Homo sapiens: one gene and its partners. The protein of the gene in region 3 interacts with the protein of the main gene of each other region in a pairwise test. Each region holds a gene or a part of one and is shown on either strand. Other genes may lie near its edges. The genes, in order: CEP76, CD160 and THRA.

What was found.
Region 1: the proteins of THRA (region 3) and CEP76 interact in binary tests that used the Homo sapiens proteins (3 or more experiments, as listed by UniProt).
Region 2: the proteins of THRA (region 3) and CD160 interact in binary tests that used the Homo sapiens proteins (3 or more experiments, as listed by UniProt).

What each region holds. Positions count from the first base shown.
Region 1 is NC_000018.10:12,689,091-12,692,841, forward strand, and holds part of CEP76 (centrosomal protein of 76 kDa), read right to left. Parts: intron 2,398-3,751; coding exon 2,269-2,397; intron 1-2,268. UniProt on the Homo sapiens protein: Centrosomal protein involved in regulation of centriole duplication. Required to limit centriole duplication to once per cell cycle by preventing centriole reduplication.
Region 2 is NC_000001.11:145,729,380-145,733,130, reverse strand, and holds part of CD160 (CD160 antigen precursor), read right to left. Parts: intron 2,388-3,751; coding exon 2,061-2,387; intron 1-2,060.
Region 3 is NC_000017.11:40,065,924-40,069,674, reverse strand, and holds part of THRA (thyroid hormone receptor alpha), read right to left. Parts: intron 1-3,751.

The DNA of each region.
Region 1 (3,751 bases), on a different chromosome or scaffold from region 3:
GTGACTGAGACTCTGTCTCACAACAACAACAAAAAAAAGTTCTTTACTTTACTTTCAGTGCTGGATACATTAGAAATTTTTTTGGCCTGGATATGTATATTAACGTTTTGATTTATAACTATTGTTTTTATAATTAGATTGACTGTTTTACACTGTTGTTGTTTAATTTCAGAACTAGTCAAATACAGGAAGCAGCAAGAAACAGTTCTGAGGAATCTAAATTAAATCAGCATTTTATTTACTCTATGTATATGGAAAGAGGTGGCATAAACCAAAAAGGCACCAGTTGAAACTCCAATTTGACACAGACTTTGCCATGACTGAGTTGCTGTTTGGCCTTGAAAAGACTGTTCACTTCTCTAACCTTCATACTGTTTACAAAAAGAGCCAATGCCTGGCCACTTGACAATCTTATATGGTTACTATGAGACTAAATTACGTTCTATGGTTCAAATCTTAAAATGAATTCTGAGAGAGGAAGTCGTTTAAGTAATATTTCCTAAAAGAAAATCCCACTTCCTTGACTTCCTTAGTGCATTTCAACTTCTTCCTCCTCTTTGATCCTGCCATTTCTCTGATTCACTGCCTCACTCCATCCTGAGTCCTCTCTAGTTCCTAATTCCACGTGGCAATGAATAAATGCCTCAGACTATATAGACAGCAGGGAGCCAGTTTATATATATATATATGTATATTTTTTGTCGTTGTTATTGTTTTGAGACAGAGTCTCACTCTGTTGCCCAGGCTGGAGTGCAATGGCGTGATCTTCGCTCACTGCAACCTCCGCCTCCCGGGTTAAGCAATTCTCCTGCCTCAGCCTCCTGACTAACTGGGATTATAGGTGCCTGCCACCAAGCCTGGCTAATTTTTGTATTTTTAGTAGAGACAAGGTTTCGCCATGTTGGCCAGGCTGGTCTCAAACCCCTGACCTCAGAGGATCCACCTGCCTCGGCCTCCCCAAGTGCTGGGATTACAGGCGTGAGCCACCGCGCCCGGCCAGGAAGCCAGTTACATTTTGATTGGTTTCTCCTTGCCTTTGTCCTGATAATGTTGTTACCTTGCCAACCAGTCATTCAATATATAAACAACGCTATCAGAAAGTCAGAAGCCATTTCCCTTATTCCCACCTCTAGTCAACCTCTCATTCCCAAGCTCCCCATCTGGACACTAAACCACTTTTAGCCTGTTCCAAAATCTAGGGAAAGTAGGGTAAAGCTGGATGAATGTACAGGATTTGAGAAACTTAACTTAAAATAATATACTACACTATACTTATATGAAAGCATCTGTATGAGGCTGAATATATACAAAATATTTGAACTGTTCCTTAGGAGTTACAAAAAATACGTGAACCTGACCACATTTTTTGTTGTTTTTTTTTTTGAGACGGAGTCTTGCTGTGTTGCCCAGGCCGGACTGCAGTGGTGCGATCTCGGCTCACTGCAAGCTCCGCCTCCCGGGTTCACGCCATTCTCCTGCCTCAGCCTCCCGAGTAGCTGCGACTATAGGAGCCCGCCATCACGCCCGGCTAATTTTTTGTGTTTTTAGTAGAAACGGGGTTTCACCGTGTTAGCCAGGATGGTCTCGATCTCCTGACCTCTTGATCCACCCACCTCGGCCTCCCCAAGTGCTGGGATTACAGGCGTGAGCCACCGCGCCTAGCTGACCTGACCATATATTTTATATTGGTCTGTTAAAGAGAGAAAATGGGTTTAGGACTCAGGAAAAATGGAGGCAGAGATATATAGTTGAAATGCTTCAGTTAAACATTACTGGTCACTGGCTTAGAAGTCGTGGTTATATACAATTTTTTTTAAAACCCTAACAAAAAATATATATATGCCCAGAGCCCCCCCCCGTTCTGCACACAAGAGCTGGATTTACATATAACCTGCAAAGTGTCCAAATGGTTAATTATTTAGCACTAAGTATCAAGCAAATACACATTCCAAGTTAAACAAAATGGATTTTCATCTACTTTAAATCAAATATATTCAGAAAGGGTTTAAAACACAATAATTGATTCAACCTGAGAAAGGTGATTTTTCAAAAACCCACAATAACTGAAATTGAAAGTAAAATAAGACATAGATTGATCTTGCCACTCACTATGCAGTGAAAGAGAATATTACAAAATCAGCATTTTATTTTACAAATACACTTTTATTTTTTGGAATACATTTTACAAATAAATATTAAATGAAATTTACACACATAACAGTAAATCTCAAATACAGGCATAAAATTATTCTAATATAATTTACAAACCTGTGCAAAAATCTTAACCAGTCGTGAGTTGTGTGAGGGTCGAATTTGCAAATATTCTCTCCACCACTGCTTAGCATATACAAGAAATAATCGCTCTTTCTCTGCAGTTTTCTGACGTTCCAAAGCAAGCTTGAAATTGAAAAAAATATTTTTCAATTTCTATTCATTATCTTTAATTACTACAAAATATGTAGCAAATTTATCTACTTCTCTACATCATTACCACCCTAATCTGAGTCATCATCATCTTCTATAAGAGCCTCCTGACTTCCCTATTTCTACACTTACCCCTAGTACAATCCCATCTCCATACAATAATCATAAGTCACCTTTTTTTCCTCAAAGACAGAATTTTTTTTTTTTTTTTGGTTGTGGAGGATGCAGTCTTGCTCTGTCGCCCAGGCTGGAGTGCAGTGGCAAGATCTCAGCTCACTGCAACCTCTGCCTCCCATGTTCAAGCAATTCTCCTGCCTCAGCCTCCTGAGTAGCTGGGACTACAGGCACGTGCCACCACACTCAGCTAAATTTTTTTTTGTATTTTTAGTAGAGACAGGGTTTCACCACATTGGTCAAGCTAGTCTTGAACTCCTGAGCTCATGATCCGCCCGCCTTGGCCTCCCAAAGTGCTGGGATTACCGCGCCTGGCCCAGAAATTTTTAAATAGTAAATCATACAAGCCGGGCATGGTGGCTCACGCCTGTAATCACAACATTTTGGGAGGCCAAGGCAGGTGGATCATTTGAGGTCAGGGGTTCGAGACCAGCCTGGCCAACATGGTGAAACCCCATCTCAACTAAAAATACAAAAACTAGCTGGGGATGGTGGTACATGCCTGTAATCCCAGCTACTCGGGAGGCTGAGGCAGGAGAATTGCTTGAACCCGGGAGGCAGAGGTTGCAGTGAGCCGAGTTCATGCCACCGTGCTCCACCCTGGGCGATAGAGTGAGACTCTATCTCAAAAAAAAAAAAAACATACTGTCATTCTCTTGTTAAAACACTTCATTCTCCATCACATTGCAAAATACCTGCCCTGGCCTATGAACTCTGGCCCGACTATCTCATTTTCTCCTCTCTCCCCAACCCACTACGCTCTAGCCACACAGGGCTTTCGGTCCTCCATAGGGGCTTTTGTTCTAGGCTGTTCCCAGTGCTGGAAGCTCAGCCCCAATCTTTGCATGGCTGGTTACTTCCTGTTGTTCAGACTCTTTCCCTACCTTAGTCACTCGACCTATAATTAGCCACCCAATAACCACTGTATCATATCACCTGTAATAATTCTCCATAAAACACCTTCTACTATCTGATTATTTTGTTTGCTGACTTATTGTTTCTCCTGCACTAGAATCTAAACTCCTTGAGAGCAAGCTGTCTAGCTGTCTGCTGCCCTATACACAGCTACATCTCCAGTGTCTAGAACAGTGTCTAGCACATTTTGACATCTATTTAGGATCCATACATATTTCTGACTTTAATTTCTTTTAAG
Region 2 (3,751 bases), on a different chromosome or scaffold from region 3:
AAAAAAAGTAAGATAGTTGTAAGTTCATGGAGAAGTAAGATAGTTGTAAAAGTTCATAGAGAATAATAGCAGTGCCCTTTTGTCCTCCTAGGCTTATTGTCTGAGACAACCACTGTCAACTCTTCGAGATGTCTTATTATATTCCTAAATAATATGCTCATATTGCTGCTTCCTAGTGATAAAATTTAGACATTTTCTATTGGCTTTCTGCTACAGTAGATGAAGATGTGCTAGAATATAGTAGATGAGGATTATACTTTCACCCATTTTCCTTCTCTGCATTCTTCTAAAAATAATTGTACCACAAATTTTATTTAAATTAGTCATGTTTACATAATTTGGATTCTGTGTTATTTTTTGCAAAATCAAGTTGTGCGCTATGTTTCTTTTGTAAAATTTAGTTTTTTCTAGAGCCTGATTTTATTTTTTTACTGGCAGAGTTTTCCATATCCATTTCTTTAATCTTTTTATTGGGTCTTTAATGGGCCTTTAGAAAGATGATATGTCGATTCCATTTTTACCTCCTAGAGATCTCCCTTCCAGAGTCGTCTTTCTCTTGCTCTCTTCTGGACTAACTGCCCTTTTTTAATTCTTGAATTTCCTTTTTTTTTTCTTTTCCACTAGAGATGGTGTCTCCCTGTGTTGCCCAGGCTTATCTCTAACTCCTGGGCTCAAGTGATCCTCCCACCTTGGCCTCCAAAAGTGCTGGCATGAGCCACTGTGTCCAGCCTAGAACTTCCTTGTTAGACTCCTTGTTTCCTGTATGTCATTTTATCCCCTTTATGGATTCACTTTCTTGTTTTACTGAAGCACATCCTCTGGTAGCTTCTTTGAAAAGATCACATGGAAGGCAAATTTTTTTGAGTCATTGCATCTCATGATAGTGTCTTTTTTCTTTCCTTACATTTGGTTTATAGTTTGGCTGAATATATAATTCTAGGTAAATTTTTTTTTTCCCACAGAATTTTGAAGGCTTGCTCTATTGTCTAGGAATATAGTTACACAGAGAGACACTTTCTGTTGGGCACAATTTGACTTAAGGAAGCCACTTAAAGCTGGGGCTGGAGTGGCCATATTTAGGATATGCCAAAGTAGTAATGGAGCAGGGGGAGCATGCATAGAGTGAAAGACAGATGCAGAAGCCAGAGGCCTTGCTGCCTCACAGTTTGAAACGGTAACTGTTTTGCGTCCTGTCCCCTTTCTAGTTTCTGATTCCAGGAGCTAGAACTCATGAGGGCCAGCTGTACTTTTTTATTTTTTCCTCCTTTAATCTATGGTACTTTGAATTGGTTTCTGTTTCCTCCAACTAAATGCTCCTTAAGACAGACACCCATATTATCTCAAACCTAATCTCGTTGTCTGCCTGAATTTAGAAATATAGCCACATTTCTGGGAGAGTTCTGAATTGGGAATCAGGAGGCCTAATTTCTTTCTTTTCTTTTCTTGTTTTTTATTTTTTTGAGACACAGTTTCGCTCTAGTTGCCCAAGATAGAGTGCAATGGCACAATCTCGGCTCACTGCAACCTCCGCCTCCCAGGTTCAAGCGATTCTCTTGCCTTAGCCTCCTGAGTAGCTGGGATTACAGGCATGCGCCACCACACCCGGCTAATTTTGTATTTTTAGTAGAGACAGGGTTTCTCCATGTTGGCTAGGCTGATCTTTAACTCCTGACCTCGGGTGATCTGCCTACCTCAGCCTCCCAAAATGCTGGGATTACAGGCATGAGCCACCATGCCTGGCCAGGAAGCCTAATTTCTATCTGTTTTTACTTTCACCAGTGAGTAGCACTGGACAAGTCTCTTCAACCCCTGTGTCACCATCTCCCTGTCAGTAAAAATGCAATGGCCACCCCAAGTAAGAGTTCTAAAATTAAAGACAAAATGAGATTATGTTTGTGTGTGCGCTTTGAAGAAAGGCAGCATCTGCCAATGGGGATGTTGGAAAAGGATTGAGGAAGAAGGAAACTGCCTTTCCAGGACCTGAACTATCTGGTTACATCTCCACTGTCAACCCTGCTCACTGTCCCACCTGGTGGCATTAGGAGTATTTGAGCACTCACCTGTGAATAGAATGGAGAAAAAATGGCCCTGAAGGCGGATACCTGACTTCTGGCTTCTGGCACAACACTGGTAGGTCCCACTGTGCAACGGTGTGACTTGGCTTATGGTGAACATCAACTGAGATGATATTTCACCAACACCATCTATCCCAGGATCCCTTTTAAGTCTCAGCTGTTTTAAACTGGTCTCAGGAGAACAGTCTCCAGACCTGTCCTTGCACAAAAACACTACAAACCCCTCAGCCTCTTCTTTCTTATGCCATACAGTACAGATTAAGTTTAGTCGCGTTCCTTCCTGGGAAGCTGAGCTGGTGATGTTAATGCATCCTGGAATGGAAAGGGAAGAATTACCCAGAGGTCAGGTAGCATTCTGTGAATTTCACCGTAACTGCTCCTTATCACTAGAAGTCTTCAAGGAAGGACTGAAGCAGAACCTGGCAGTAGTGCTGGCAGACAGGAAATACAAATTCCAGCTCTATCGATGGCTGTGTGACTGTAAGCAAGTTACCTAACTCCTTGGGCAGTAGTTTATTCATCTGGAAAATGAAAATTAAGGGACTAAATAATATGCTCAAAGCATCCATTAATTCATAGGTTTATTTGTTCCTCCACTTAACAAATACGTTTAGGTATTCACTCTGCCAAGCCCTGCTGGGGCTATGAGGACTAGGACGTGAGCCCTACTGTCAGAACTTTTTTTTCCCCTAACCATTAGATGACCGGGGATTTTTAATTTAAAAAATTTTTTTTTAAAACAAGGTCTTGCTGTGTCACCCAGGCTGGAGGGCAGTGGCACAATCGTAACTCACTGCACCTTTGAACTCCTGGGCTCAAGCAATCCTCCTGCTTCCGCCTTCCGAATAGCTAACACTACAGGTATGCACCACTATGCCTGGCTAATTTTTTATTTTGTAGAGACAGATTCTCACTATGTTGTCCAGGCTAGTCTTGAACTCTAGGCATCAAGCAACCCTCCTGCCTCTGCCTCCCAAACTGCTGGGATTACAGGCATGAACCACTGTGCCTGGCCACTCTCAGAGTTTAAAGCCTAATGTAAAAACAAATTAGCAAAAAGTTACAATTTAATTCCACAGTTATTATAATTGAGGAATCTTAGAGATTCCTGAGTCTGAAGCATCAGGGAAACTTCACAGTGAAGTTAGTGCTGGAGCTGACTTGAAGGATGAGTAAAAGTTTTTCTAAGAAATATAGGATGAGAGAGACCACAGAAATACCAGAGATGATTAAAAACAGCCACTGTGTGGAAATGGAGTGAGAATGGACTGGAGAAACAGACTAATTATTGAGGGACCATTGATATCCAAAGACCATGACTCTGATGGTGCCAGTCTGCCCACTTGATTTTCCCTGTAAGTAATCTGTAACCTGGATACAGAAGTGGAGAAAATAGTTGGGTTAACCCAGGATGTTTTGGCTCGATGGGTGTCTCTGACCTAATTTTGCAATGCATTGGCCCTGCCAACTTTGTACTGCCCCTCACTCTCCTCAAACTTCACTTCCTTCTGTAGTTTATATTTTGTAGTCCATTATTATAATCTCTCCCTTATATCCACCCTCAGCTCCCTTAGCTTTACTCCTACTGTGATGGATCCTCGCAAAACCCCAACCTCGGTTAAATCCAGCTCTCTGCTGAAAACTCATCCGGCAGATGCTGAGGCTGCCAGCCCCCT
Region 3 (3,751 bases):
GCAGGAGATCCAAGTAGCCAAGAAAGCAGAAGCAGGAGCACCCCCAAGCTGGGCACGGCACATTCTCCCCACCCTCCCCCAGCAGCCAGCGGGTAATTGGAGCTGGGAGCTGGGGCAGCTGAATGCTGGAGGCATGAATGTCACGGGGCCAAGGCACTTGCTGCAGATGGCACCATGGGCACAAGGCTTGGGGTCCTCCCTCCTCACTCCCTCATCTAAGGCAGTAGAAGAAGTTGCCTGCAAGCCCTGAAGAGCATGGCCTAGGAGGGGAGGGAATGGTGGAGGGGGAAAGAAAGGGAGGGATGTTCTCCCAGGCACCCCAGAGGCTGGAGCTAGCCCCTAACCAAGCAGAACTGGCAGAGGCAGAGAGAGAGAGACAGAGACAGAGACAGAGAGACAGGGACAGAAAGGGAGGAGGGAGGGAATAGGAAGGAGGGAGGAAGGGGGAGGGAAGAGAGAAAGATTGAGAGTGTGTGTGTGAGAGAGAGAGAGGGAGGGAGAGAAGGAGGGAGAGACAGAGAGGGGGAGGGGGAGAGAGAGAGGGAGAGGGAAGAGGAAGGGAGGGAGGGAGAGAGAGAGGGAGGGAGAGAGGGAGGGAGAGAGCGCGCGCGTGAATGCAGCTGAGTCTCCGGCACACACACGGACACGTGCAGACACACACACTCACCCCGCATGCGCAGAGCCACAGGGCTCTGGGTACCGTTCCAGGAGATATTCAGAGCCCTCCCCAGCCCACACATGCACAAAAACACTCTCACATGGATGCGTGCACAACACACCCACTCACTGATGTGTACAAAAATGCCGAAAGACACCAAAGCCTCGGTTCCCCTGTTTCCCCACCCCCATGCCTGGTAAAAGAGAAAAAGAAACAGGCAGCTGGGGCTCTGGGAGCCAAGAGCCGATCTCTTCTTTAGAAGAGGAAAAGAGGAGGAGGAGGAGGTGGGCCAGGGGCTTGGTCCAATCATTCTGCTCTTGGCCACTGCTGAGGGGCATGGCTGAGGCTTTGGTATCAACCTTTAATGCCCACCCCCAAAACAGCGAAGCAAGGATAGTATTTCCTGGGCACCAGTAACACCCATCTTGCTTCCCTTGTCTACCCAGCAAACTTCTGACCCTCCCTCTGGACCACCTCACGCAATGGCATACCGGAGGGAGGTCCCTATGACCCCAGCTTTGGCCTGCCAAGTGACACCAAGGTGGAACCACATGTGCCCCCACCACACACCAGCCCCAGATACTTCAGTGAGAGACTGAGAACTGTCTCTGGTTCCAGGCAGCATGTGTATGCCCCACCCTGGCATGTGCCAGGCCCTGGGAAAAAAGGAGAATCCACAGGCATTGCTCACCATGCCAGGATGCAACATGGATTGAACACAGGGGTCATCCCACCTTGTGTTATTTGCCCTCAACCTGAGTGAGACAGGAACCATTGTCTCTAGATAATGAAAACCCAGGCCCAAAGTCATACGACTAGTGAATGTCAACAGCCAGGCCTCCCAACTCCCAGCCAGTGATCTTCCCACCACGGTCATGCTTGCCTCCCTCCCCAAGAGACACAACAGTTCTCCAAAGTCCCCTAGACACCTTTGCAGCCATGAGAACTAGAGTTGGGTTTTTTGTTTTGTTTTCTGTCTGTTTTGAGAGGATGTGTGTGTGGGGGGTCTCACTCTGTTGTTCAGGCTAGAGTGCAGTGGCACAATCACAGCTCACCGCAGCCTCGACCTTCCAGGCTTAAGCGATCCTCCGGCCTCAGCCTCCCAAGTAGCTGGTAACACAGGCATGCGCCACCACACCTGGCTAACTTTTTAAAGTTGTTTTTAGAGATGGGGTCTCACTATGTTGACCAGGCTGATCATGAACTACTGGCCTCAAGTGATCCTCCCGCCTTGGCCTCCCAAAATATTGAGATTACAGGCATGAGCCACTGTGCCCAGCCGAGAACTAGAGTTGAGATTGGTTCCCACTCCAAAGGCTTCCCGTCACCCCTACAGGGTATCCTCCCATTGTCCTTCCTTCACCTTGAGGGGCAGGGCTAAATAAAAGGGGTTTGGAGAGGGGATCCTGATCACCAGACTCACAAAGGCAAAGAGGCAACCCAGGACAGATGCTGGATCTCAAAGTGCTGTGCCCACCACACTGGTCATTACTCAGTGCTTCAGTTTCTCTCTGCCACCACCTTTCACACTAAGTACCACTCCATGGAGGGCAGGGGAATCTGGTGCCTATCAGCCAGAGCTGGGTCCTGGTTGACCAATGCTGGGCTCCCAGGAGGGAGGAAGGGCACTGCCTCCTCTTTGAGCCCACACATAAGAGAGGGGACGGCTTTCCTTGTTCTCTCTCTCCCACCCCCAGAGCTCAGACCCTGAACAGAGATGCAGTGATGCCCAAAGATTTATGCAGGTGCCCCTAGCTGGTGGGGTGTGTCCCAGGCTGAGGGGCCAAGGGCTCCTTGTAAGCTGAAGGGCGAGGGTCAAAGGAGGGTGGGGCAGAGGGGCCTGCCTTGGGCTCTTTCCCATACACTCATTCCAGGCTGCAAAAATTTGTCTGGGAGGAAAAGATTACATGACGGTGAGAAGGCTGGAAATTGGAGACCCACTGCCCCAGGCCCCAGTCTCACTGATGTCTAGGAGACCCAATTCTCCACGAAGCTTCTCTAAGAAATCTGGGAGACCCCAGGCCCACAGCTTCCTTCACCCATCACAACCGCTCACATATACAGTTTGTTATGAACTAGGCACTTTTAAAAACATTTTTCCTCAAAAAAGCTAAATGAGGTAGATATGATCATCCCCAATTTACAGATGAGGCAACGGGGAAGTTAAATCGCTTGCTCAAAGTCACACATCCAGCAAGTGACAGAGCTGGGATTCAGACCTAGGCAGTCCAGGTCAATCATGGCCGTCATGATCATCACCATCATCTCTGTTCTTAGCTGTGATGGTATATCACCTGCTTGATAGATAATGCCTTGTTCTTTTTTGTTTTTCTTTTTTTTTTTTTTTTTTTTTGAGACGGAGTCTCGCTCTGTCACCCAGTCTGTAGTGCAGTGGTACAATCTCAGCTCACTGCAACCTCCACCTCCTGGGTTCAAGCGATTCTCCTGCCTCAGCCTCCTGAGTAGCTGGGATTACAGGACCCCGCCACCACACCCAGCTAAGTTTTGTATTTTTAGTAGAGATGGGGTTTCACCATCTTGGTCAGACTGGTCTTGAACTCCTGACCTCAGGTGATCTGCCTGCCTCCGCCTCCCAGTGTGCTAGGATTACGGGTGTGAGCCACTGTGCCCGGCCCAATGCCTTGTTCTTTCATCCAGCTATGTGTTCCCTGAGACCAAGCCTCAGTCTTTCCCCTCTGTAGCTGCCCTGTGGGTTCTCTGCCAAGTGCCTCCACCTCCAAATAGTCCAAGGCTAGAGGGGAGCATAGCGAGAAGTGCTTGGTGCCCCCGGGCTCGATGTCTCCTGCCTGAGTTCCCCCTCCTCAAATTCCCTCTCCAGAAGAGGTACCCCTTCTAGGCTGGAACCTGCACTCACGGGTGGGAGGGCCTCGCTTAGTACATACTTAGTCTAGGCAGCTGTGCCCTCAGAACCAGGCCCTGAGGCTGGGCAAAAAGGACACAGCTGTTGGGCATCTCTGAGGTGGGCCTCAGCTGCCAGGGGTGTGGAGAAAGGCCATTGTGAGCCCTGCAGTGGACCCAACTCAGCAGGGTCCTGCCAGCTCCCGCCACTGCCCATGGGGGCGGTTCTTTTCC